Homo sapiens: one gene and its partners. The protein of the gene in region 6 purifies or fractionates together with the protein of the main gene of each other region. This does not show direct contact. Each region holds a gene or a part of one and is shown on either strand. Other genes may lie near its edges.

What was found.
Region 1: the proteins of FCGRT (region 6) and KIF14 purify together in Homo sapiens (affinity purification with mass spectrometry; 2 studies listed by BioGRID and IntAct, with this or other methods). This does not show direct contact.
Region 2: the proteins of FCGRT (region 6) and PTPRS purify together in Homo sapiens (affinity purification with mass spectrometry; 2 studies listed by BioGRID and IntAct, with this or other methods). This does not show direct contact.
Region 3: the proteins of FCGRT (region 6) and PODXL2 purify together in Homo sapiens (affinity purification with mass spectrometry; 2 studies listed by BioGRID and IntAct, with this or other methods). This does not show direct contact.
Region 4: the proteins of FCGRT (region 6) and LRP4 purify together in Homo sapiens (affinity purification with mass spectrometry; 2 studies listed by BioGRID and IntAct, with this or other methods). This does not show direct contact.
Region 5: the proteins of FCGRT (region 6) and SERPINC1 purify together in Homo sapiens (affinity purification with mass spectrometry; 2 studies listed by BioGRID and IntAct, with this or other methods). This does not show direct contact.
Region 7: the proteins of FCGRT (region 6) and GOLIM4 purify together in Homo sapiens (affinity purification with mass spectrometry; 2 studies listed by BioGRID and IntAct, with this or other methods). This does not show direct contact.

What each region holds. Positions count from the first base shown.
Region 1 is NC_000001.11:200,596,752-200,600,251, reverse strand, and holds part of KIF14 (kinesin-like protein KIF14), read left to right. Parts: intron 1-138; coding exon 139-202; intron 203-1,830; coding exon 1,831-2,015; intron 2,016-3,500. UniProt on the Homo sapiens protein: Microtubule motor protein that binds to microtubules with high affinity through each tubulin heterodimer and has an ATPase activity. Plays a role in many processes like cell division, cytokinesis and also in cell proliferation and apoptosis.
Region 2 is NC_000019.10:5,208,411-5,211,812, forward strand, and holds part of PTPRS (receptor-type tyrosine-protein phosphatase S isoform 1 precursor), read right to left. Parts: intron 3,359-3,402; coding exon 3,180-3,358; intron 2,396-3,179; coding exon 2,269-2,395; intron 2,185-2,268; coding exon 2,059-2,184; intron 1-2,058. UniProt on the Homo sapiens protein: Cell surface receptor that binds to glycosaminoglycans, including chondroitin sulfate proteoglycans and heparan sulfate proteoglycan.
Region 3 is NC_000003.12:127,642,685-127,646,184, reverse strand, and holds part of PODXL2 (podocalyxin-like protein 2 precursor), read right to left. Parts: intron 1-3,500. UniProt on the Homo sapiens protein: Acts as a ligand for vascular selectins. Mediates rapid rolling of leukocytes over vascular surfaces through high affinity divalent cation-dependent interactions with E-, P- and L-selectins.
Region 4 is NC_000011.10:46,912,051-46,915,550, reverse strand, and holds part of LRP4 (low-density lipoprotein receptor-related protein 4 precursor), read left to right. Parts: intron 1-3,500. UniProt on the Homo sapiens protein: Mediates SOST-dependent inhibition of bone formation. Functions as a specific facilitator of SOST-mediated inhibition of Wnt signaling.
Region 5 is NC_000001.11:173,914,528-173,918,825, reverse strand, and holds the start of SERPINC1 (antithrombin-III isoform 1 precursor), read left to right. Parts: upstream 1-1,498; 5' UTR 1,499-1,566; coding exon 1,567-1,607; intron 1,608-1,885; exon of another isoform or gene 1,886-2,321; coding exon of another isoform or gene 2,322-2,419; intron 2,420-3,639; exon of another isoform or gene 3,640-3,808; intron 3,809-3,906; coding exon 3,907-4,273; intron 4,274-4,298. UniProt on the Homo sapiens protein: Most important serine protease inhibitor in plasma that regulates the blood coagulation cascade. AT-III inhibits thrombin, matriptase-3/TMPRSS7, as well as factors IXa, Xa and XIa. Its inhibitory activity is greatly enhanced in the presence of heparin.
Region 6 is NC_000019.10:49,515,661-49,519,160, forward strand, and holds part of FCGRT (IgG receptor FcRn large subunit p51 isoform 1 precursor), read left to right. Parts: intron 1-453; coding exon of another isoform or gene 454-539; intron 540-3,500. UniProt on the Homo sapiens protein: Cell surface receptor that transfers passive humoral immunity from the mother to the newborn. Binds to the Fc region of monomeric immunoglobulin gamma and mediates its selective uptake from milk.
Region 7 is NC_000003.12:168,033,425-168,036,924, reverse strand, and holds part of GOLIM4 (Golgi integral membrane protein 4), read left to right. Parts: coding exon 1-89; intron 90-3,500. UniProt on the Homo sapiens protein: Plays a role in endosome to Golgi protein trafficking; mediates protein transport along the late endosome-bypass pathway from the early endosome to the Golgi.

The DNA of each region.
Region 1 (3,500 bases), on a different chromosome or scaffold from region 6:
AATAGAGCAGCCCACTCCCAGATTATCATATTTTAAATATTACTAGGTAGTTGCCTAATTTTCATTGATTGTCTCTTGACTCTCAATCTTATACATCTGGATGTTTTTAACTCTGTTATTTTCTTTGTCTTTGGAAAGAGTGTGGAAAGAAAAGTTTGAACAAGCTGAAAAAAGAAAACTTCAAGAAACAAAAGAGTTACAGGTATTATTTCAACTTTCTAAACTGATTAGAAAATAAAAGAAATATGCCAAGAAATAAATATTGCCAATATGCCAATGCATGTAAATTTAATGTTTCAAATACTTACTATATACTGACTCTGTACAAAGCAATACCGTAAGGAAAATTAATATAAAGAAATGTTAAGATCAAGACTGGTTGCTTAGAGCCAGCCCATAAACTAGTTGGAAAGTTAAAGTATGAATAAACCATCTTGTTATATTTACTTTGGTTCTACAAATATATATTAAATGTCTATGCTTTTCAGGAACAGGGGAAGCCAAGGTGATTAAACACAGTTTCATCCCTCAGAGAGCTTGTGATCCAGAGAGAGATTTACAAAACGTAAATAGAAGACTGAAATGCAATGTGATTTCAGTAGATTGAGCCATAAGCAATTGCCATTTTTGTAGGTAAAGCATGGTTGAACACTGGCAGTTTCATATGGTTGAACCTAATGTAATGAAAAGTATTTCAAGTGATTGGTAGTGGGGGAGTACTATAAGAATTCAGGAGAAGAAGGGAAAATTCCTTGCGCATGGCCAATCCAATCTCATAAAAGAGGTGGCATTTGAGATGGGCTTTGAAGTTTGGGTAAGATTTTAATAGGAAGAGAAAAGGAAGAGCACATTCTTGGAAGAGAAAATTCTCTGAAAGTAAAGGTAGAAAAGTTTGAGTTGTCTTTAGAAAGGGTACGTAGATCAGTTTTACTGGAAGCAGTTTATATGAGATCATAAGGAGATACAATTGGAAAGATATGTTATGATTAGTTTATGAAGGACTTGATTTCCAGGCCAAGGAAATTAAGTTTTATCCTGTAGGAAGTGAGAAGCTGTTAAAAAGTGACCAGGGAATTTACATTTTGAGAGCACCCTTTCGAGAGAATTAACCTGGCATAGGATATAAGATGGATTGAAAACAGAAGCTGTTGACGGTGATCAAGAGGCTGCTTCAGTAGTTTTGGTGTGAGTTGACAGGGGCCTGTGGTGAAGGCAATGAAGATGCAACAAAACAAACTGATCTATTCTAAAGACGGTCAGTCAATAAGAAGACACAATTTGGTGATGATAGATTGATGTATGAGTAGACTGAGGATGGTGAAGGACAAAGAAGGTAGGGAGGTCACAAAGGAGAGATTCTAAGGAAGGAGGAGAGAGTCTAAAAAACCTTTATGGCCGGGCACGGTGGCTCACGCCTGTAATTCCAGCACTTTGGGAGGCTGAGGCGGGTGGATCACCTGAGGTCAGGAGTTCGAGACCAGCCTGATCAACATGACGAAACCCTATCTCTACTAAAAATACAAAAATTAGCCGGGCGTGGTGGCATGCGCCTGTAGTCTCAGCTACTTGGGAGGCTGAAGCAGGAGAATCGTTTGAACCCAGGAGGCAGAGGTTGCAGTGAGCCGAGATCGTGCCACTGCACTCCAGCCTGGGTGACACAGCGAGACTCTGTCTCAAAAAAATAAAAATAAAAAAATAAATAAATAACCTTTAATTTAGTGAGACTTCATATAGAATTGTTTTAATGTTTAATATAGACCATTTGTTTTAGGTGAATTTAACAATTTCATACTGTGATTAAGATTAATTTCTTTTTCTGACTTCTACCAGAAAGCAGGAATTATGTTTCAAATGGACAATCATTTACCAAACCTTGTTAATCTGAATGAAGATCCACAACTATCTGAGATGCTGCTATATATGATAAAAGAAGGAACAACTACAGTTGGAAAGTATAAACCAAACTCAAGCCATGATATTCAGTTATCTGGGGTGCTGATTGCTGATGATCATTGGTATGTTAATCCTCTAAAAAAAAAGAAAAGGCACCTGTTCTATATCTTGATAACATGTGGTTTCCTTCATATGGCATATTCGTTGATACTGATCGTTTGGTAGAATTCTTCAAACCCATTGTTTAGTCAGGAAAAACATACATTCTGAGTGTGTTATAAGGATGATAGGTCAGTTACTCTCAATATAAAGTACAGTGTAATGCTCTCTCTGTTTTTGTTTTGGCATACTTGATCTGTTGATTGAAGAATAATTTATTTTCTTGCAATTATAATGATGCACATGCAAGTAAACTATCTATCTTACATAACAGAATTTTTGGTTGGATTGACCAATTTAAAAATGTTACTTTATGTGAATTTTGTTCATATGAATGGAATACTTGTATATATTGTTGGAATGATAGCGTATGTAAACTTTTTTGACTCTGCATTGTGTTTCCAAGATTTGTGTACATTGGTTCCTGTTTTATTTTCACTGCTATGAAGTATTCCATTGTATGAGTTTATCTCTTATAAAGTTTAGGAAGTGCTTTTAAATTGTATGTCTGAGAGTAGAGATACTAGGTTGTAGAATATGTGCATATTCAACTTTAGTAGCTAATTTCAAATTATTTTCCAAAATGAATTTTTACTCCCATTGGCCTTGAGAATACCTGTTACTCCACATCGTTGCCAATACTTAGTACTGTCAGACTTTATGCCAATCTGATGAACACTAAATAGTATATCATTATGGATTCATTTTACATTTCTTTGATTAATAATAAGGTTGAACATCTTTTCATGTGTTGATTGGCCATTTTTGTTTACTATTGTAACTTGCCTCTTCATATCTTTTGTTGATTTTTCAACTGATTTGCTTATTTCTTAATAATTTGTAGGAGTTGCCAATCTTTCGTGAGCTTTTTGGTATAAATATCTTTTTTTCTAACGTGTAACATCTTTTTACTCTCTCTGGTGCCTTTGATTGATTGAAGTTCTTAATTTTATTGTAGTACCTGGCATCAGTCTTTTCCTTTATGATTGTCAGTTTTTATGTCTTAAAGAAAGAATGTTCTGGCTGGGCGTGGTGGCTTATGCCTGTAATCCTAGCACAGGTGTGTGGGCTCAGGAGTTTGAGTCCAGCCTGGGCAACATGGTGAAACCCTGTCTCTACTAAAAATACAAAAAATTTTCTGGGCGTGGTGGTACCTGCCTGTAATCCCAGCTACTCAGGAGGCTGAGGCATGAGAATCGCTTGAACCTAGGAGGTGGATGTTGCAGTGTGCCGAGATCATCATGCCACTGTACTTCAGCCTGAGTGACAGAGCGAGACTATGTCTCAAAAAAAAAAAAAAAAAAAAAAAAAGAGAGAGAGAGAGATAGAGTGTTCTGGCCAGGTGCGGTGGCTCACGCCTATAATCCTAACAGTTTGGGAGGCTGAGGCGGCAGATTACTTGAGACCAGGAGTTCAACATCAGCCTGGCCAACATGGTGAAACCTCAT
Region 2 (3,402 bases), about 44 Mb from region 6:
ATCTTGTTATCAGGTCAGCAGCGGCCATGGGGGTTTTTCTCCATCCTCCCTATCTTCACCCCCATTTTTTGTTTGTTTGTTTGTTTTTGAGATGGAGTTTCACTCTTGTCGCCCAGGTTGGAGTGCAATGGCGTGATCTCGGCTCACTGCAACCTCCACCTCCAGTGATTCAAGTAATTCTCCTGCCTCAGCCTCCCGATTAGCTGGGATTACAGGCATGAGCCACCAGGCCCGGCCCTCACCCCCATTTTGTACACTCTCTGCCATTCATTTACCCTGACAACTTACCGTCCTTCACAATCCAATGGTACTGCTTTCCATAAGAGATGCTCCAACCTCATCCTCACCACTTCTTGCCACCCAGCTGTTCCTCTCCCCACATTTCCTGTATGACATCCAGCACCTCCATCCTCCATCCTTTGCCATCCCATAGTGCAACCAGCTCTGCCCTTCCCAGCTCCTATTCACCATGATCCTCTGTCATCTTCCACTCTGTGCCATTTCGGGGCCCTACAGCACAACTCAACTCCATCACTGTCCATAGCTCATCAATGATGACTCATCTTCTACAACCCAATGGTGCCATCATCTTTCATCGTCCACCATCCAACACCATCATCTTCCACCATCCAATAACAGTGCCACTGCTACCACCCACTGCTGGTAACTCACTACCTTCTGCCGTCCCGAGTTCCACCCAACACCATCATCTTCCATCATCCACCACCATCCCCTCTTGGTAACTCATCCTTAACCATTCAGTGATGGCATCTTCCACTGACTGTCTTCATTCCCCACTACTCAACCATTCCTCTTTGCAGTCTCCTTTCCTACCACCCAGTGGTGCCATCCAACCACATCATTCTCTGCCATCTTCCATCCTTCACAACTCAATGGTGCCATTTTCCACCATCCATCACTAACAATTCATCACTCTCCACCATCCAAGGGTACCATCTTCCACTGACATTCTCCATTCCCCATCATCTGCCTTGTTCTAATCCCATCCTCCACCATCAAAATGGTGCCATCCAAAATTGTTATCCTCTGCCACCATTTGCCATCCAATGTACCATCTTTCCCTGATGTTTTACATTTTCTAAAATCTCCTTTCCCAACCCCATCTTCCTCAATCTTGTACCACCCATTGGTTTATACCATTGACTATTGTTTACTGTCCTTTCTTAGTCCTAGTATTTCCCATTGATTTTCTCCACCCCCTGCTGGCCAAACATTTGCCCTTCTCCAATTCTGTCTTCCTCCATCCATCACTGATAAAGCATCACCCTTCACTGACCCAAACTACCACATTCCACTGACATTCTCCATCCTGTTATGCGAATGTTCTTCTCTCCAATTCCAGATTCCACCCCTCCAAGGGCACCATCTTGCACTGCTCACAGCACAATGCCCGGTGATTGCTGTTCATTCAGCAGCCTTCACCATCCTTTGGCATCATCTTGGCCAACATTCCCCATCCTCTATCATCCCCTCACTGCGTTCTCTACCATCGTCGATCTTCCACCACTAACTTTGATCCTTTGTCACCCAACAGGGCCACCTTCCACTATGAGTCTTCATCTGTTGCCACCTAATACCTGGCCTTTCTCCCTCCACCTGACACTGCAGTCCTTCATTGAGCCAACACCATCCATACTCATCTCTCCTCACCCAACGGTGCCAGTCCCCACCATCTGACTCTCCTTGTCCACCGTCTACCACCCCTCACCCTCAATCCCTCAAGTCCCTTTCAGCCCTTTAACATCATCCTCCACAGGTGGCTGCTTCCAGAGGAAAGCCCCATTCACTTCCTTGAATATCATCCCCTGGGGCCATGTTCCCTAGTGAGTGGAGACACTGCAGGGTCAGCACAGAGATAAGACCCTCTCTTCCACCTATGTGGCAGTAGAAGCAAGTGGCCAACTGGTCAGCTGACACTTCTCCTGATTCCCAATGCTTATGCCTAACCCTTGGCCTTTGTATCCATCACCAACCAGGGCAGCCCTTTCCAGATCACTAAGGCTCCAGCCCCTCCCGCCAGTCTGTCTCTTCACTCACCCGGGCATCTGTGACCTTGAACTCTCGCAGGATATACTGAGGCATGTTGTATTCTGCCATCGGATCTACCACAAAGTACTGGTAGCGGGCAGAGCGCTCGGCCGGCCAGTACTGGTGACACTTCTCCTGTGGAGGAGATGGCGGCCGTGGTCAGCGCTGTCTGAGCCACAGTCTGGCCCTCGCCCTTCCCTGCTGTGGCCCCTAGCTCACCCGGCCCATCTCCCGCAGCTTGGTCAGCATCACCACGATCGTCGAATTGTTCTCCCACAGCATGCGCCAGAAGTCTTCCGTGGTCTCCGCCAGCGGCCCCTGTGTCGCGATGTAGGCCTTCTGCTGCCTGCAGGCGTTGGGGGTATGAGCCCAGGGCCGGCAGGGAGACCCGGCGTGGTACTCACCTGATGCTGCCCGGGAGGGTCAGGACCAAGCCAGTGACAGCTACACCTACCACCCCACTGCCTGCCAGGAATGGCTGCTGGGTGCACCACTTCCCCTCCTGGTGATCCCATTTTGCATGTGGGGAAACCACCAGTCTCATGACAAATTCAAATCCCTTGACAAAGCTGCGGGACTATCCACTAACCTCTCCTGATTTCTTCCCTCCATCTCCTTCAAGGGCCACTGCCCTACTTTCAGTTGCTTGCGTGGGCCAAGCTCTCAGCCCCGGGCCTTTGCACATGTGGCACCCTCTGCCAGGAACACCCTCCCCTCCTTTGCCAGGATTTCTCAATCTCAGTGCTATTGACATTTGGCGCTGGATTGTTCTCTGAGACAAGCTGTTCTGTGTACTGTAGGATGCTGAGCAGCATGCCTGGTCCCCACCCAGGCAGTACCAGTAGTACTCATGAAAATAAGAAATATCCTCAGGGTGTCAGAATTACCCCAATTGAGAACCACTGATAGAACAGATGGAATCACATTATGGACAGCAGCCATCAGTTAAACACACACCCAAAGATTCACGGACAGCAGCCATCAGTTAAATATACATCTAAAGATGTGTATTTAAACAGCTCAGGGCTACCAGTATCTCCCCAGCTCTGTCTCCCACAAGACTGGAGGCCTCTTGAGAGTAGAGATGGGCTCCTTCTGGGGCCCTGAGGTGGGAAAGGCATGGCACCTACCTGTAGCCATCAATGAAGCTGGCGTTGATGTAGTCAGAGCCCTCCACACCCCGGATGGGTTGCAGACAGACCCGTGTGCTCTCATAGGGCATGATGTTCACCAGGCGGTTCTTGAACTTGTTACAAGGCAGATTGGCACTGATGAAGCGTGACGTGTGGGCCTTGGAGTTAGCCAGCCGCTGTGGGGAGGAGGAAGCCAGAGGCCACCATCAGGATGAGGAAG
Region 3 (3,500 bases), on a different chromosome or scaffold from region 6:
GAAGTAAGAATATATACTTACATTTTTCAGTGGACGTTAAATGAGAACCCACAACCCCTAACATAGTGCTGGGCACATACTGGGTGTTGAATACATTGATTGATGTACTTGTACTTGATCTGAGATTGGCCTGTCTGCAGCATGGTTTTCAGCAGTCCCTGCTACTGCTGCATGGAGTTCAATGTCCCTAATGGCCATGTTAGGATAGCACTTGGCACAGTCAATCTGGACTCTGCAGGACTCCCAACCCAGGCATGCCCTCTCAAGGTTCTTTTGACTCCTCCAACCCCCAAGAGGTGATCCACCTCCTTCTCCCCAAGAACCCCTAGACAGAAGCCTGTGGCTCCGGGGCACAAGAGCAGACAAGAATAGGGGGGTAGGGCACGCCACTGTCCCCTGGGCTGCCTCCTACACCAGCCTGACTATTCGCTGTCAGCCTGCCACCTTAGCCACTTTCTCTTCTGTCATGTCCTAATCATATGCCATCAAGGTGCTGCAAGAAAACAGAAGCAGGGGTCACTAGCCTGATTTCAGGGCCACTGCCAGTACACGGAGATGTCCCCTCTGGGCAAATGAATTAGAAAAAGGTGCTCCTCCCACCCAGCCCATGGCCTGGTTGGCAGGGTGTATGCTGGACTTCAGCTCCAACTCCCATGCTCGGTCAGGAGCCCCGGACAGGGCACCACCAGCATAACCACGTGCACTGGTCCTGCTCATTGGTCAGAGCTGGCAAAAGCCTCTTGAAGCTAGTCCTCTTGAGCTAGGTACTCAAGGACGAATACATATCCACTAGCACATCAGGATGGAGAAGAGCTTCCCAGCAGATGGGACAAGAGGAACAAGTGCATCACAGGCTTAGGGAATAGGCCAGGCTGTTGTCAGTGAGAAGACACTGACTCTAGATCCAGCTCCATTACATCCAAGCAATGTGTCCTTGGGCAAAGCACCCTACTTCCCCATGCCTCAGTTCAACTCTGCCAAGCAAGGAAGAGAACAAGCTGATGATGAGCTAATCAGATGCATGCTGGAGCAAGGAAGGAGAAGAGGCTGGGGAAGGCTGGGGCCGGACTATCAAGAGCATTTTCTGCCATGCTAATAAGTTCAGCCTTTAACCTGTGGGCTTTGGGGTTTGAGAAGGGGTTTGTTTGCTAGTTTGTTTGAGAAGAAGATGGGCAACTCCAGTTTTTTCACAGGATCATGGTCAGGTAGTACAGAGAAGAGATTGACCTGAGGAAACGTAAGGCGAGGGGACAGGTCAAGAGAGGAGCAATGAGGGACAGGACTGAAGCAACTCTCCTCCCTGCACCTGCCTGGCCTCCTGGCCTCCTCCCTGCACCTCCTCTGCCTCCTGGCCTCCTCCCTGCACCTCCCTAGCCTTCTGCCCATCCTGGGTAGGGTGATTGGTATCTCCACCTCACAGCCAAGCTGTATGCAGCTGTGGTGAGGACTAGAGACAATCGAGGCAAAGGCCTATGCATAGCCGGTATTCAATGAATGAGAGCTATTTTTATTCTTATGAGACCTAGGGAAGGAAATGGGAGAGGAAGAGACATGAACTGAAAGAAAAAGAAAGGGAAACGAATCCCCTGGGGAGGGGGGAGGACAACAAATCGAGCTCATCAAGGCTTCAGGGCCCTCCACTGTGGTCCTGAGGCCAATGCTCTCTGCGTGACTGCTTACCTCACACTAGACGCTCAATAGTCTCAACAAAAGGGAAAGGCCAGAAAAAGACCCAATAATTGTCTGGTACAATGTAAAAGTTTGTTTAAATCATTCCTTGGCCAGGCACAGCGGCTCACACCTGTAATCACAATACTTTGGGAGGCTAAGGTGGGTGATCACTTGAGGTCAGGAGTTCAGTCAGCCTGGGCAACACGGTAAAACCCACCTCTACTAAAATTACAAAAATTAGCTGGGCATGGTGGCACGCCTGTAATCCCAGTTACCAGGGAGTCTGAGGCAGGAGGATCACTTGAACCTCGGAGGCAGAGGTTGCAGTAAGCAGAGATCACACCACTGCACTCCAGCCTGGGCAACAGAGTGAGACTCCATCTCAAAACAACAACAGCAACAAAATATCATTTCTTTAAAATGATAAGAGGACAGATTTATCAATGGATGCCGCCATGACAATAGATGATCTATATGGAGAAAATGAAATTAGATCCTTATCTTACACCACACACAAAAATAAATTACAGCTAGATTGGACTTAAATGTAAAAAATTAAGCTAAAGAATAGAAGGGGCCAGGCGTGCTGGCTCACACCTGTAATCCCAGCACTTTGGGAGGCTGAGGCAGGTGGATTGCTTGAGCCCAGGAGTTCAAGACCAGCCTGGGAAACATGGCAAAACCCTGTCTCTACAAAAAACAGAAAAATTAACCAGGCGTGGTGGGGTACACCAGTAGTCCCAGCTACCTGGGAGGCTGAAGCAGGAGGATCGATTGAGCCCAGGAGGTCAAGGCTGCAGTGAGCTGAGATTGTGCTGCTGCACTCCAGCCTGAGGTACAAAGCGAGACCCTGTGTCCAAAAAATAAAAATAATTTTAAAAAAAGAATTTACATTAAAAAAAAAGAATAGAAGGAAGAAAGGTGCATGTATCTCAAGGGCAGAAAGTATTTTCTAATCATAAAGTAAAGAAAAACACATAAAAACATTTTAAAAGAAGTAATTTTGCTGGGTGTGGTGGCTCATGCCTGTAATCCCAACACTTTGAGAGGCTGAGGCAGGTGGATCACTTGAGATCAGGAGTTTGAAACCAGCCTGGCCAACATAGTGAAATCCCATCTCTACTAAAAATACAAAATTAGCTGGGCGTGGTGGCACATGCCTATAATCCCAGCTACTTGGGAAGCTGAGGTAGGAGAATTGCTTGAACTTGGGAGGCAGAGGTTGCAGTGAGCTGAGATCACACCATTGCACTCCAGCCTGGGTGACTAGAGCAAAACTCCATCTCGAAGAAAAAAAAAGTAATTTTAAGCTTATAAAATATTTAATTTCTTTATGCCAAAAATTATAATAAAAATACAAGCAGTTGACAAACTGGAAAAATGTTTTCTACGTATGTCAGAGGAAAGTTAGTATCCTTTTTCAGATTTGTACAGGGATAAGAAAAAATTAAAGACTCAATAGAAAAAAACAGGAAAGTAATAATAATAGCTAATAGTCACAGAGCACTTAACAATGTGCCAAGCACTGAGCTGAGTGCTCGAAATGTATGATGGTGTGTGAACCTCACAACCCTGTGAGGTAGGTATATAATTATCTCCATTTCCTAGATGGGAAACTGAGGCTTAGGGTTAGTTACTCGCCAAAAATTGCATCACTGTTAAATGACAGCACTGGAGCCTTCCTGACTCCAAAGCCTGTTCTCTTAACTACACTGTGCTTCAAATAAAAAAGAAGAGTGATAAGTGGTCACTATTTTTGTGTATATGTATATTCTATAGAATACACATATTCTGTATATAATGAACGTACACATATGTTTTGTACATAT
Region 4 (3,500 bases), on a different chromosome or scaffold from region 6:
AAAGTTTAAGGTGCTTATTTGGATGCTGCTAGTCCTTGGGGCTTTTCCTAGAGCCTATTGGTTTGGACTCAGCCCACATAACTCTCCAACCTTAAAGATTTTGGAAGGAAACTTGATGGCTGGTAATAGCCCTGAGTGATTTTCATCCTGAAGTTTGAAGTAAGGGCATGGATGACAACCATTGGAAGAGTGGAAAGTGTGTTTGTTCTAGAGGTCTCATCCAGGTAAGGGAAATGTTAAAACTTCTGCCTAGGCGTGCTTGGGTAGATAGAAGGTTGTATCTGAAAATAAGTGCAGAGCAATTGAGCTGAGACTGGTCTCCTTTCCATCTCGCTGTTGTCGTGACCAGGGTTGTCATGGTGCTTGAGTGACCTTGTCCCTGATCTGTTGGGCTTGTGAAACATACTTGGCTTGTCACTGATTTTGGATTTCCTCTTCTGTACCCTGATGAATATCAGATAACATCTTTTGGACTGGCACGTGGTATTAAGAATGACAGGTGCAAGGGAACCAAGTCTGGCCATGTCTGATACAGAGCACGTTGGGTATGTCCATCTTCTGGGCCAGCAAAGAACACAGGAGGTCACAGAGGACACGGTGTTTTATAGCTCTTTGCTCACTCTTTCTACCGATTAACTGCCAGTCTTAACTGTTAGAAGGAAAATAGGAGAAATTGTTTATGTTGCTGCCCCTTTAAAGAAAAAAAAAATACTGGGGGTTCCTGAATAGGAACAGAATTTCAGGGACTACTTTAAGAAGTAATCTTGTCTTTTTTATGATTGGGTAAGATTACGAGACAGTCTGTGCCCTTGGTTGACTAGGTCTGTTAGCCTGTTCCAGCCATGGTCTCTCTACATTCCTTGATGCAGCTTAGCCACGAGTTTTGTCACAGTTGCCTGGACATGGGGCATCTGGGCCCCAGACTGTGTCTGGACTGCCATCTCATCTTCAGCAGCGGAAGCCCTCCTCCCCTCCTCAGCCTGTGAGGATTCAGTGTCCCAGGGAAGACTCAGTGCTGACTGGTTAGCTGGCAGAGCCTGAGTTTGACCTTATAAATAGTTCTGATGACTGCATGGGCTTGTCACTCTCACTCCAGCTTAGAGCTGGCAGGAATGAGTTCCTCGTACAATCGGGAGCATTCCTCAAACTAGGCTCCACACCCATTCACTTGTTCATTCATTCAGCAAACACACATATGTCAAGCATTAATATAATCACTGTATACGAAGCTCAGCAATTAAGAAGCACCCACAGACCTGGGTTTGAATCTTGGCTCTGGCAATTCTTGGTGACCCTGTGCAAAATCTCCCTGAACCTCAGGGTTGTTACCTGCAAAGGCGGGTAGGGTAGGGGAAGGGAAGTAGTAATAGATTATCACATAGGAATATCATAAAATTTACCTGAGATAATAGCATGTTCAAACTATGCAGCACAGAGCTTGGCAACTACTGTGTTACTGTAGAGCTTGATAAAAGTTAGCTGTAAGCAAAGTCACCTAAGTGGATCCGAGATGATTCTTGGCTTTAGAACATGGGAGCCAGGTAAATAATTATGCTACCGTGTTCTGTGCTAAAATTGAGACTTGGTCCTTCATTCATTGCAGCTGGTCTTTTGCTTGTCTCTTTTAAAGATCTGCCCCTTCTTTCTCCCCTTGAAAACGTGATAGAACCGAAGCATAGTTCCCACTTGTGCCCACTCCTAGAAAAGAAGTCTGCTAAGCTATAACATCAGTCTAGGGGAACTCATGTCGCCTTAGTTCTCTTGAGAGAGGTCTGGGGAAATGGAGCTTTTCCTCTGAGAGTTTCCCTTCTTAAGTGGTCAGGGATGCAGCCTAGCAACTTCTCCTGCTAAGATTCCTGTGACATGGGGTGAGAGGGGCTGGCCAGGGACTCTTGTAGCTGGAACAGTTTAGAATTCCAAGCCCTCCCTCCCATTGGCCTGAGAAAGGAGTCAGGCTCCAGAGCTCATAAGGTAGTAATTGCCCCAATTTGGGAGCTGGGCTGTTGTGGAGCCTTCGCAGCTACCATTTTCAATCAGGAAGCCTGTCAGCTTGCAGGCCTAATTGATGTGGGTCTCCAGCCCCGAATAGCCCCCAACCCCTAGTTCCTCCACCTCAAAGTTTGACCCCTGTTGTCTCTTTTGTTTCTTCTTTTTAAGTTGGTGCCAGTGATGTGATTTTTGGGAGCTGCGGAAAGTTGACCGTAACCAAGAGCAGCTGTTAAAAAGAGCCAATTCTCTAGCTTCCTGACGGTTGTCTGCCTCCATTTTCTGTTGTGCGTTTTTGATTTAGCAAGAAGCAAACATCCTAGGTGCCCTTGGGCGCCTCTTACGCCCATCCAAGCAGACTTCATTCTTTCACTGCTCGTAGGCATTCCCATTCTTGCTCACAGATGAGCGGACTGGCTGTTAGCGCTCCCTGACACCCTGTTTCCCCATGCGGAATAGGACTCCCCCATCATTCAGGTTCGAATGAGGGGAGGGGCGCTGTCTGGGACCCAACTGGGGATAGCCTGGCTGGGACTTGCTGCAAGCCCTGACTTGGCCTATGGGAGCTCCCCCTCACCTCTATGCACAGCTGAGGATCAGAGCGGCAAGCAGAGCCGGAAACAAAAGACTGGGAGCAAACCTCCCATCTAGCTGAGAGGCAGTGACACAGAGGTGCTGCTGCATAATTTATCACCGGAGGTTTTCTGGAGCCGGGAAGCTCCTGGCTCCAGGCAGTGCCTTTTTGCGGGAGAGGGACCCTCCCTCTGTCTGGGTGTAGGGCAGAGCAGGTACAGAGAAGGGTATCCAGAGAGACACCTGATTAGCATGTGAAATAAAGAAGCTGCAAGGTTGTAAGTGCCTCCAGGGATCTCTCCAAGCTCGGCAGCTCCACTTCCTGTCACGCCTTGGGGGAGGTGGGGAGGGGTAGTGGCCTGCAACCACGCGCTGGCATGGATGAGGACAAGAGACAGCTTCTCTGTTGAGTTGACTGTAGCCTCCTTCTAACCAAGTGGAGAGGCCAGGTTATGGCATCCACAAGCCTAGCAAATAGGAAAGGGGAGCCCCAGGTTTTCCACCCTCCTTCCACGGGCAGTTTAAACAATAAGTTTCAACTACAGGCTCCCAGAGCCAATAAAAGCCAACAACTCTACAATGTATCTTCCCCAAATGAGAATTTCTGCTCTTCTAGGAATGATCTCCTCCAATGACAATTTTTGCAAATTGTGGGATATGTGGATTTACAAATTGGGATATGTGGTTTAAAAAATCCAAATGTATTTCTGGAGCAGTTAGCATTTTTGAGAGCTTTGCTGTGTCCCTGGTACTGTGATAAGCATTTAGTATATGATATCATATTTATTCCTCACAATATCCTTATGAGGTAGGTAACATTAGATTCCCGTCTTACATTGGCCAGGTGCGATGGCTAACGCCTGTAATCCCAGCACTTTGGGAGGCTGGGGTGGGTGGATCACTTGACGTCAGGAGTTCGAGACCAACCTGGCCAACATGGT
Region 5 (4,298 bases), on a different chromosome or scaffold from region 6:
CTGATTTTTTTTTTTTGAGATGGAGTCTTGCTCTGTCACCCAGGCTGGAGTGCAATAGCACGATCTCGGCTCACTGCAACCTCTGCCTCCTGGGGTCAAGTGATTCTCCTGCCTCAGCCTCCTGAGTAGCTGGAATTACAGGTGCCCACCACCATGCCCAGCTATTTTTTGTATTTTTAGTAGAGATGGGGTTTCACCAGGTTGGCTAGGCCGGTCTCGAACTCCTGACCTCAGGTGATCCACCTGCCTCAGCCTACCAAAGTGCTGGGATTACAGGTGTGAGCCACCACGCTTGGCCTAAAATACTGATTCTTTATGTGATTGCTGTATGTCTCCCCCGAATGGAATCCCAGCCCCAAGAACAGTGTCTGCTGGCACAAGCAGCACTCGTGTATTTGTTGAACTCAAGTGGTTGAACAGGAGACTTTTCAATAGTCTTTAATCTAGGGTGACAGATGAGCCTCTGGGCATTCTGGGGCCCTTTGGGACAGTTCTCGGCTACTGTTCACACTGCACATGGAGGGCTTCAAAGGATCCAGGGTCTGAATCAGCCAAGAACTTAGACACAGCTTCAGTTCAGGAGAGATGTCCTCTCTCATGAACGAAGAGCTCTCGAAAATGCCTATGACTGCAACAACAACTACAAGGAGTCCTTGATCACACAGCAGGAGGCACATGCGCCCTGTGAACTTGGTGGCTGCAGTCCTTGTGATGGTGCTTTTGGCTATTTCAGAAGAGGGAAATGTAAACAAACCTGCCCTTTATCTCCACTAGTTTGAATTTACCCAATCTCCCCAATAACTAATAAAAATAACGATACACATAAATATAATTTAGTTTGTTTTTATTTCAGCAGTTGTACGTGGGTTTTTCACCTGCCCCGCATTCTGTCTCCTGATCCCCCAGTAGAGTTTTGCTAAGTATTTCCCAGCTGCTCACACCCCTTAGAAACGCGCTTGGCATGCACCCCGAGGCCCTGCTCTTCTCTCCCTGTCCCACCACTTCAGGGCTGCTGGGGAATGGGTCTCTCTGTGGGCCACAGGTGTAACCATTGTGTTTTCCTTGTCTGTGCCAGGGACACCTTGGCACTCAGATGCCTGAAGGTAGCAGCTTGTCCCTCTTTGCCTTCTCTAATTAGATATTTCTCTCTCTCTCTCCCTCTCTCCATAAAGAAAACTATGAGAGAGGGTGGGTATGAACCAAGTTTGTTTCCTTGGTTAGTTTCCTAACCAAGTTTGAGGGTATGAACATACTCTCCTTTTCCTTTTCTATAAAGCTGAGGAGAAGAGTGAGGGAGTGTGGGCAAGAGAGGTGGCTCAGGCTTTCCCTGGGCCTGATTGAACTTTAAAACTTCTCTACTAATTAAACAACACTGGGCTCTACACTTTGCTTAACCCTGGGAACTGGTCATCAGCCTTTGACCTCAGTTCCCCCTCCTGACCAGCTCTCTGCCCCACCCTGTCCTCTGGAACCTCTGCGAGATTTAGAGGAAAGAACCAGTTTTCAGGCGGATTGCCTCAGATCACACTATCTCCACTTGCCCAGCCCTGTGGAAGATTAGCGGCCATGTATTCCAATGTGATAGGAACTGTAACCTCTGGAAAAAGGTAAGAGGGGTGAGCTTTCCCCTTGCCTGCCCCTACTGGGTTTTGTGACCTCCAAAGGACTCACAGGAATGACCTCCAACACCTTTGAGAAGACCAGGCCCTCTCCCTGGTAGTTACAGTCAAAGACCTGTTTGGAAGACGTCATTTCAAGTGCTCTCCCTCCCACCCCACCTCTTGGGGTAAGGCCTTTCCTAAGCTACCCCTTGGGTCCCTAGCCTAAGAAACAAGGGGGATGTCATCCCTGGTGTAAAGATGCTGTGCAGGAAGTCAGCACTCACGGGATCCAGGGGACGCTCCAAGGGGAATCCCCAGGGCCTGCCATCCATCCGGGAAGAGAGCAAATGCTACCCATGAGGACCTCCTCACTCCCTTTTTGCTCTTTCTTCCACTCAGATCCACCCCACTCCACCCCCACCCAAATCCCAGTGACCTTTGACTAAAGGGCCAAAACTGCTTCCTTTTCTCACAATGAGAGTTGTCCCTCCCTCAATGCCACACACACTCCCTTCTTCATCTGAGTTGTCACAGGAGGCTAGAAACGGGGTGGTGGCACAACTGTCTTGGTTTTAATTTGTGCTTCATAGCCCTCCCAGGGTCCTCTCAGCCTCAAATTGCATTTCCAAATGTAGTTGAAGGACAGAGTGGGCAACCGAAGGCAGTGGAGATGGGAAGATGAATGGCAGGGTCCTCTCCTCTCTCTCTCTGCTTCTTCAGCCTGCCTTCCACATCTCCCTTGGTGCCGCTGCTTCTCTCCGGCTTTGCACCTCTGTTCTTGAAAGGGCTGCAGAACTGGACTCAGACCACGCAAGAAGGCAAGTCCCCCTCAGCTGCCCCAGCTTCCAGCCAGCCCCAGGCTTGCCCAACGGACCACGTCCGTGAATCTGCACTGGGTGCCTGTCTTTCTCTCCCAGGAGAAGATGGGAAGATCCAGTACCCACACACAGACCCCCTTGTGTACACGCAGGAACCATAAACCAGCTGGAGGCAGCCCCTGCCCCACCCTGTCTTATCTACAAAAAATATTACAAGAGACTTTATCTCTTGATTTGCTTCATCGAGTGTCCCAACTACCTCATTTTTTTAAAATGTGAAATTAGCTTCATTTACCTTCATTGAATCCATGTTGGCGACTATTAAAAATTCCAGGCAATAAAAAGGGATGAGAGCCTGAACTAAAGCAGTGGCAATAACTGGTGAAAGAGTAAAAAAACAGAACTGATTGACTCTGGGGTGAACTGATTGACTCTGGGGTTTGACTAAATGAGGAGGAGAGAGGGAGGAATCCAGGGTGATTCTCAGGTTTCTGTACGGGATTCACTGAGCCCACTCACAGGAGCAGGCCTGTGGGGGAGAATTAATTACCAGTTCAGTTTGGTCCTGTTTCCCTGAAGAACTTGTAGGAGTTCCTGGTGGAACTGTCCAGCAAATAGTCAGTCTGGAGCTCAGTGGAAGGGTTAGGGCTGGAGCTAGAGATGTAGGAATCTTCAGCACACAGATATTGCCATTGTTTTTGTTTGTTTGTTTGTTTGTTGTTGCTGTTTTGAGACACAGTCTCACTTTGTCACCCAGGTTGGAGTGCAGTGGCACAATCTCAGCTCACTGCAACCTTCGCCTCCTGGGTTCAAGTGATTCTTCTGCCTCAGCCTCCCTAGTAGCTTGGGACTACAGGTGTGCGCCACCACACCCAGCTAATTTTTGTATTTTTAGTAGAGACAGGGTTTCACCATGTTGTCCAGGCTGATCTCGAACACCCAACCTCAAGTGATCTGCATGCCTCAGCCTCCCAAAGTGCTGGGATTACAGGCGTGAGCCACCGCACCCGGCCAGATATTGCCTTTGCTCCATCCATTTCTTCTTACTTCTCTTGTGTTGCTGAAATCTCTCTGCTGCATCTATCAGAGTCCTTCCCCAAACAGTTTCTGTAGATGGCTCCCCCTACCACCCTGACTCTTCACTGGGCACTAAAGCCGATTTTTTAGGCATGCACATTCCATGTCACAAACAGGAAGCTTCTCATTCTTTTTTCTCCCAGCGTGGGGAATTGAGCACATAATACTCCAAATAACCATCAGATGATTCTAATTCCAACATGACCACGTCCAGGCAACTGAACTGTCCCCTGGCAAGAAGTCTAGGACTGAACCTGTCCCGGGCCCCTGTACTTGGTTCAAAGGATTTAGCCTTTCTCTTGGCCACACCAGGTGGGCTGGAATCCTCTGCTTTACTGGGGCAACCCTGTGGTGGGCAGTGGGGCTAGGGGTTGCAGCCTAGCTTAACTTGGCATTTTGTCTCCTTGCAGGAAGGTTTATCTTTTGTCCTTGCTGCTCATTGGCTTCTGGGACTGCGTGACCTGTCACGGGAGCCCTGTGGACATCTGCACAGCCAAGCCGCGGGACATTCCCATGAATCCCATGTGCATTTACCGCTCCCCGGAGAAGAAGGCAACTGAGGATGAGGGCTCAGAACAGAAGATCCCGGAGGCCACCAACCGGCGTGTCTGGGAACTGTCCAAGGCCAATTCCCGCTTTGCTACCACTTTCTATCAGCACCTGGCAGATTCCAAGAATGACAATGATAACATTTTCCTGTCACCCCTGAGTATCTCCACGGCTTTTGCTATGACCAAGCTGGGTGCCTGTAATGACACCCTCCAGCAACTGATGGAGGTACGACCAAAGGTCTTCTGCCCAG
Region 6 (3,500 bases):
AAGTGATTCTCTCACTTTGGCCTCCCAGGGTGCTGGGATGACAGGTGTGAGCCACTGTGCTTGGCCTTCCTTGCCTTAATGTCCTCATCAGACCCACGCAGCAGCACTTGTCTCTACGCAGCCATCAGAGTCTACGCTCCAGCCACCCAACATAAGCAATCTCCTCCCTCTGGGCATTTGCTCATCCAGTTTCCCCTGGCACCTCTCTGTTCCACCCTTCCCCCTCTCTGCATATACTCCAGCCCTCCTTATTCTTCAAGGTCAGGGCTGGATATCACTTCCTCTGAGAAGCCTTTCCTCAGCTCTGTAGGGCAGAGTTCACTGTTTCCTCCCCGGAGGCCCCCAGATCCCCACTCATTCAACTGTTGGCCAAGAGCATTTGCACTGCCAGGCGCTGCTCTGGGCCTTGAGCAAAGAGGGAAGTGACACACATTCACCCTCTGTGGCTCCCAGGCTGCTGGACAAAGATAGATACCAGCTGGGGATGTGCACAGATATTCATTCCAAGTGCCACAAAGGAGAAGTTGAGACTCAACCAGGTAGTTTTTCTTTAATTGTCTTCTTTCTTTCCTAAGTAGGGAAAATTTCTTTCTTTTTTTGAGACAGAGTTTCGCTCTTGTCGCCCAGGCTGGAGTGCAATGGCGCGATCTCGGCTCACTGCAACCTCCGCCTCCCAGGTTCAAGTGATTCTCCTGCCTCAGCCTCCCGAGTAGCTGGGACTACAGGCGTGCACCACCACGCCTGGCTAATTTTTGTTTGTTTTTTTTTTTTTAGTAAAGACAGGGTTTTACCATGTTGGCCGGGATGGTCTCGATCTTTTGACCTCGTGATCTGCCTGCCTCGGCCTCCCAAAGTGCTGGAATTACAGACGTGAGCCACTGCTCCTGGCCTTTGTTGTTGTTGTTGTTGTTTTTGAGACAGACTCTTGCACTGTCGCCCAGACTGCAGTACTGTGGCGCAATCTTGGCTCACTGCAACCTCCGCCTCCCAGGTTCAAGCAATTCTCCTACCTCAGCCTCCCGAGTAGCTGGGATTACAGGCACACACCACCATGCCTGGCTAATTTTTGTATTTTTAGTAGAGACGGGGGCTTCACCATGCTGGCCAGGCTGGTCTCGAACTCCTGATCTCGTGATCTGCCTACCTTGGCCTCCCAAAGTGCTGGGATTACAGGCATGAGCCACCACTCCTGGCTTAAGGAGGGAAAGTTTCAAACCACACTTAAGTAGAAACAATAGTATAAAACGGACCAGACACGGTGGCTCACGCCTATAATCCCAGAACTTTGGGAGGCCGAGGCAGGTGGATTGCTTGATCCCAGGAGTTCAAGACCAGCCTGGGCAACATAGTAAGACCGCATCTCTACTAAAAACTCAAAAAATTAGCCTGGCATGGTGGTATGTGCCTCTAGTCCCAGCCACTGGGGAGGCTATGGCAGGAGGATCGCTTGAGCTCAGGAGTTTGAGGCTGTAGTGAACTGATTGCAACTCTGCACTCCAGCCCAGATGACAGAGCCAGACCCTGTCTCAAAAAGAAAAAAAATATGGTGGCCAGGTGCAGTGGCTCACGCCTGTAATTCCAACACTTTGGGAGGCCGAGGTGGGCAGATCACTTAAGGTCAGGAGTTTGAGATAAGCCTGGCCAACAGAGTGAAACCCCATCTCTACTAAACATACAAAAATTAGCCGGGTGCGGTGGTGGGTGCTTGTAATTCCAGCTATTCGGGAGGCTGAGGCAGGAGAATCACTTGATCCCGGGAAGCAGAGGTTGCAGTGAGCCGAGATCAAGCCACTGCACTCCAGCCTGGGCAACAAAGCAAGACTCTGTCTCAAAGAAAGAAGGAAAGAAAGAGAGAGGAGAGGGAGAGAGAAAGAGGAAGGAAAGGAAGGAAGGAAGGAAGGAAGCGAGCATCCCATCACTGAGACTTAATAATTATCAACCCATGGTTTTTTGAATTTCACGCACATCCTCACTCACTTCCCCACCCCACTTCACATCAAGCTTTGGTAAATCTCAGACATCACAGTGTTTTTTTCTTTGTTTGTTTGTATTTTGAGATGGAGTCTCACTCTGTCATGCGGGAGTGTAGTGGCTCAGTCTCGGCTCACTGCAAGCTTCGCCTCCCAGGTTCAAACAATTCTCCTGCCTCAGCCTCCTGAGTAGCTGGGATTACAGGTGCCCGCCACCTCGCCCAGCCAATTTTTGTATTTTTAGTAGAGATGAGGTTTCACCATATTGGCCAGGCTGGTCTTGAACTCCTGACCTCGTGATCCACCCACCTTGGCCTCCCAAAGTGCTGGGATTACAGGCATAAGCCACCGCGCCTGGCCAATTTTTGTATTTTTAGTAGAGACGGGATTTCACTATGTTGGCCAGGCTGGTCTCGAACCCTCCACCTCAAGTGATCTGCCCTCCTCAGCCTCCCAAAGTGCGGGAGTCACCGTGCCCAGCCAGACTGTTTTGTTGATAAGTCCTTTAGTATGTAACTCTACTAGGTAAGGGCATTTAAAAAAAATTAATACCAAAACCATCATCACACCTACAACCAATTAACTCTTTAATGGCATCAGATGTCCAGTTTTTGTTCCCATATTCCTGACTGTAAATGTTTTTTAAAGTTTGAATCAGCATCCAGCAAGGTCCACACATTTTGTTGTCTTTTCAGTGTCTTTTTCTGATTGTTGAATTTTTCTTTCTTTCTTTTTTTTTTTTTTTTTCCTTTTTGAGACAGGGTCTTGCTCTGTCACCAGACTGGAGTCCAGTGGTGCAATCATAGCTCACTGCAGTCTGAACTTCCTGGGCTCAAGTAATTCTCCCACTTCAGCCTCCCCAGTAGGTAGGACCACAGGTGCACGCCATCAGGCCTAGCTATTTTTGTTTGTTTGTTTTTTGAGACAAAGTCTTACTCTGTCGCCCAGACTGGAGTGCAGAGGCACGAACTCGGCTCACTGCAACTTCTGCCTCCCGGGTTCAAGCAATTCTCCTGCCTCAGCGTCCCAAGTAGCTGGGATTACAGGCGCAAGCCACCACGCCCTGCTAATTTTTTGTATCTTTAGTAGAGACAGAGTTTCACCATGTTGGCCAGGCTGGTTTCGAACTCCCGACCCCAGGTGATCCACCCACCTCGGCCTCCCAAAGTGCTGGGATTACAGGCGTGAGCCACCGCGCTCGGCCGTATTTTTGTTTTTTTCTTTTTTTTGGAGACGGAGTCTCGCTCTGTCACCCAGGCTGGGGTGCAGTGGCGCGATCTCAGCTCATTGCAACCTCCACCTCCCAAGTTGCACCAATTCTCCTGCCTCAGCCTCCCGAGTGGCTGGGACTACAGGCGCCCACCACCACGCCCGGCTAATTTTTTGTATTTTTAGTAGAGACAGAGTTTCACTGTGTTAGGCAGGATGGTCTCGATCTCCTGACCTCCTGATCCGCCTGCCTCAGCCTCCCAAAGTACTGGGATTACAGGCTTGAGCCACCGCGCCCGGCCGGATTCCAATTTTTTACCA
Region 7 (3,500 bases), on a different chromosome or scaffold from region 6:
CAGCAGAACAGCAAAATGTGACCCAGGTGGCACATTCTCCACAAGGTTACAACACAGCAAGGGAGAAGCCAACCCGAGAGGTGCAGGAGGTAAGGGGCGTGAACTGGTAATCTATGGTTAGGTCACTTTCTCTGTCAAGTTGCCAAGAGGGGACCTGCTTTTAATATTGCCAACTTTTCTGGGAGAGCAGTAGTTCTCAAATTTTAGTATATCAGAATTGCCAGTAGGGCGTGATAAAACACAGATTACTGGGTCCCAGGCCCAGAGTTTCTGATTTAGTTAATTTGGAGTGAGGCCTAAAGATTTGCATTTCTAACTGATTTAGCTGGTCTGAGTAGCAAACTTTGAGAACTGCTGCTAGTATTTTCTTTCTTTTTTTCTCTGAGACAGTGTCATGCTACGTCGTCCAGGCTGGAGTGCAGTGGCACAATCTTAGCTCACTGCAACCTCCGCTTCCCGGGTTCAAGCAATTCTCCCTGCCTCAGCCTCCCGAGTAGCTGGGATTATAGGCGCCCGCCACCACGCCTGGCTAATTTTTGTATTTTCAGTAGAGACAGGGTTTCGCTATGTTGGCCAGGCTGGTCTTGAACTCCTGACCTCAGGTGATCCGCCCGCCTTGGCTTCCCAAAGTGCTGGGATTATAGGCGTGAGCCACCACACCTGGCCGCTGCTAGTATGTCTGAGAAAGGCTTTAATGGCTTTGTCTTTATTCATGTAGGTTTATTTGTCTTCAAGGAGTTGTAGTATCTGAGTTTTTCAAGGTTGGGGATTTTGCGGGGGTTAGGGTGAGAACGTTAAATGATCATGAGGATTTTATGTGACAGTCAACCCACTCAAATATTAAAGTTAATAATATATTTTAACTTGGAGCAGTGCTAGGTCTACACAGAGCATGTCAAAATTTGAATTAAATGACCTGTTTGACACTCCTACGGGTATGAGTGCTAGTCAAATAATACACCTTTTTATATTCTTGTTCTTTATAAAAATTAAGCCTTAAGAATATCTCATAAGTGAGACATCAGAAGTAGTTACCATTACCACTAATTTCTACAAAGGTTGTTTTTTTTTTTTCCAATCATCTGTAATAAAAAAATAGGCAATATGGTTATCTTTCTGACAAAGTGGTTGTTTTAAACTTTTAAGTTCAGGGGTACATGAGCAAGTTTGTTACGTAGGTAAACTGTGTCATGGGAGTTTGTTGTAAAGATTATCTTATCACCCAGCTATTTAGCCTAGTACCCATTAGCTATATTCCTGCTCCTCTCCCTCCACCTTCTGATAGGCCGTACAGTGTGTTGTTCCCCTCTATGTGCTTATGTGTCTCATCATTTAGCTCCCACTTATAAGTGAGAACATGTAGTATTTGACTTTCTGTTCCTGTGTTGGTTTGCTACAGATGATGGCCCCCAGCTCCATCCATGCCCCTGCAAAGGACATGATCTTGTTCTTTTTTTATGACTGCATAGTATTCCATGGTGTTTATGTATCACATTTTTCTTTATCAAAGTCTATAATTGGTGGGCATTTAGGTTGATTCCATGTCTTTGCTATTGTGAATAGTGTTGCAGTGAATGTGTCTTTATAATGGAATGATTTCTATTCCTCTGGGCATATACCCAGTAATGGGATTTTGCTGAGTCAAATGGTATTTATATCTTTAGGTCTTGGAGCAGTCTCCACACTGTCTTTCATGATGGTTGAACTAATCTGCACTCCCACCAACAGTGTATAACCATTCCTTTTTCTTCACAACCTCGCCAGAATCTGTTATTTTTGACTTTTTAATAATAGCTCTTCTGACTGGTGTGAGATAATATCTCATTGTGGTTTTGATTTGCATTTCTCTAATGATCAGTGATGCTGAGTTGTTTTTTTTTTTTTTTTGTATGATTGTTGGCCACATATATGTTTGTGTTAGTCCGTTTTCATGCTGCTCATAAAGACATACCCTAGACTGGTTGATTTAAAAAAGAAAGAAGTTTAATTGGACTTACAATTCCACATGGCTGGGGAAGCCTCACAATCATGGTGGAAGGCCAGGAGGAGCAAGTCCCATCTTCCATGGATGGCAGCAGGCAGAGAGAGAGAGCTTGTGCAGGGTAACTCCTCTTTTTAAAACGATCAGATCTTGTGAAACTTGTTCACTATTGTGAGAGCAGCACGGGAAAGACTTGACCCCATGATTGAGTTACCTCTAACCGGGTTCTTCCCACAACACGTGGGAATTCAAGATGAGATTTTGGTGGGGACACAGCCAAACCATATCAGTGTCTTCTTTTGATGTGTGTGTTCATGTCCTTTGCTCACAAAGTGGTTTTTAACATTAAAGAGAAGACTGAGAAAACTTTCCTCCAAGTTATGGGAATAATTAAGTTGATATGAGTAGACTTCATATATGAGCCTCTTCACTCTGTTCAGGGTATTCCTTCAACAGACAGGTTCAGTATCTTCATGGACTCTTATTCTTTCTCAGGCTCTTATGTTAATAACTAAAGAGAGCATGACCAGATCACTGGCCTGGCAGTTGGTTCTATTTTCTGCCCTTGTCAGACTGCCAGTTTACTGGATTAATCTTCCAGTGACTCAGATCTTCAGTTTTTCCATCTCTGAGGTGGAGATAGGAGTTATCTGCACTAACCTTCCTCACTAGGATATTGTGAAGATAAATGACAAGTGTTTGAAAGTACTTAGAGCTCTTTAGAGAAATATTTTTCTGTAAAGCCAGGGCAGTATTATGTCAAACTTGCCAGATATGTGAGGATGTCGGTGGAATGTGCAACTCCAGTTGTCCTCAAATGTCTGAGAAAGGACTTTTCTCCCCAGTTTATTAATACAGTCCAATTTCTCAGATTTGATAATTATATCTCTGCTAATTTAAGAATAGGATTTCACATTTATTTCAATTTTGGGAGAGCAGTCTAACCAAAGAAGATTTTTTTTTCTGAAGGTTAAAGAGAAAAAAAGAGTGACGTTTGTTTCTGTTGATATACTATATTCTCTTTCTTCCTCACTTTCTAGGTAGTGCAGATCATATAGAGATCGCTGAAACTTATAGGGAGAACTGATTTGAGTCAACTAATTTTAGAGGAGGGTTATTCTGAAAAAGCCATTTCTTCTTTTTCTGCTCAGGGTTTTCAATATTAGCAATAAAAAATGTTTACAAAAGAGTCCTGCTGGTTTACAAATAATTACTACTTTAATACATTAAAAATATTTTATTGTATCTTGTTTAACAGGCACTGTGTTGAACTAACATGGATGTTCATTAGTAATGGCATTCTTTTTTTTTTTTTTTTTTTTTTTTTTTTTTTTTTTGAGACGGAGTCTTGCTCTGTCGCCCAGGCTGGAGTGCAGTGGCGCAATCTCGGCTCACTGCAAGCTCCGCCTCCCGGGTTCACGCCATTCTCCTGCCTCAGCCTCCCGCGTAGCTGGGACTACAGGCGCCCGCCACCACGCCCGGCTAATTTTTTGTGTTTTTTTAGTAGAGACGGGGTTTC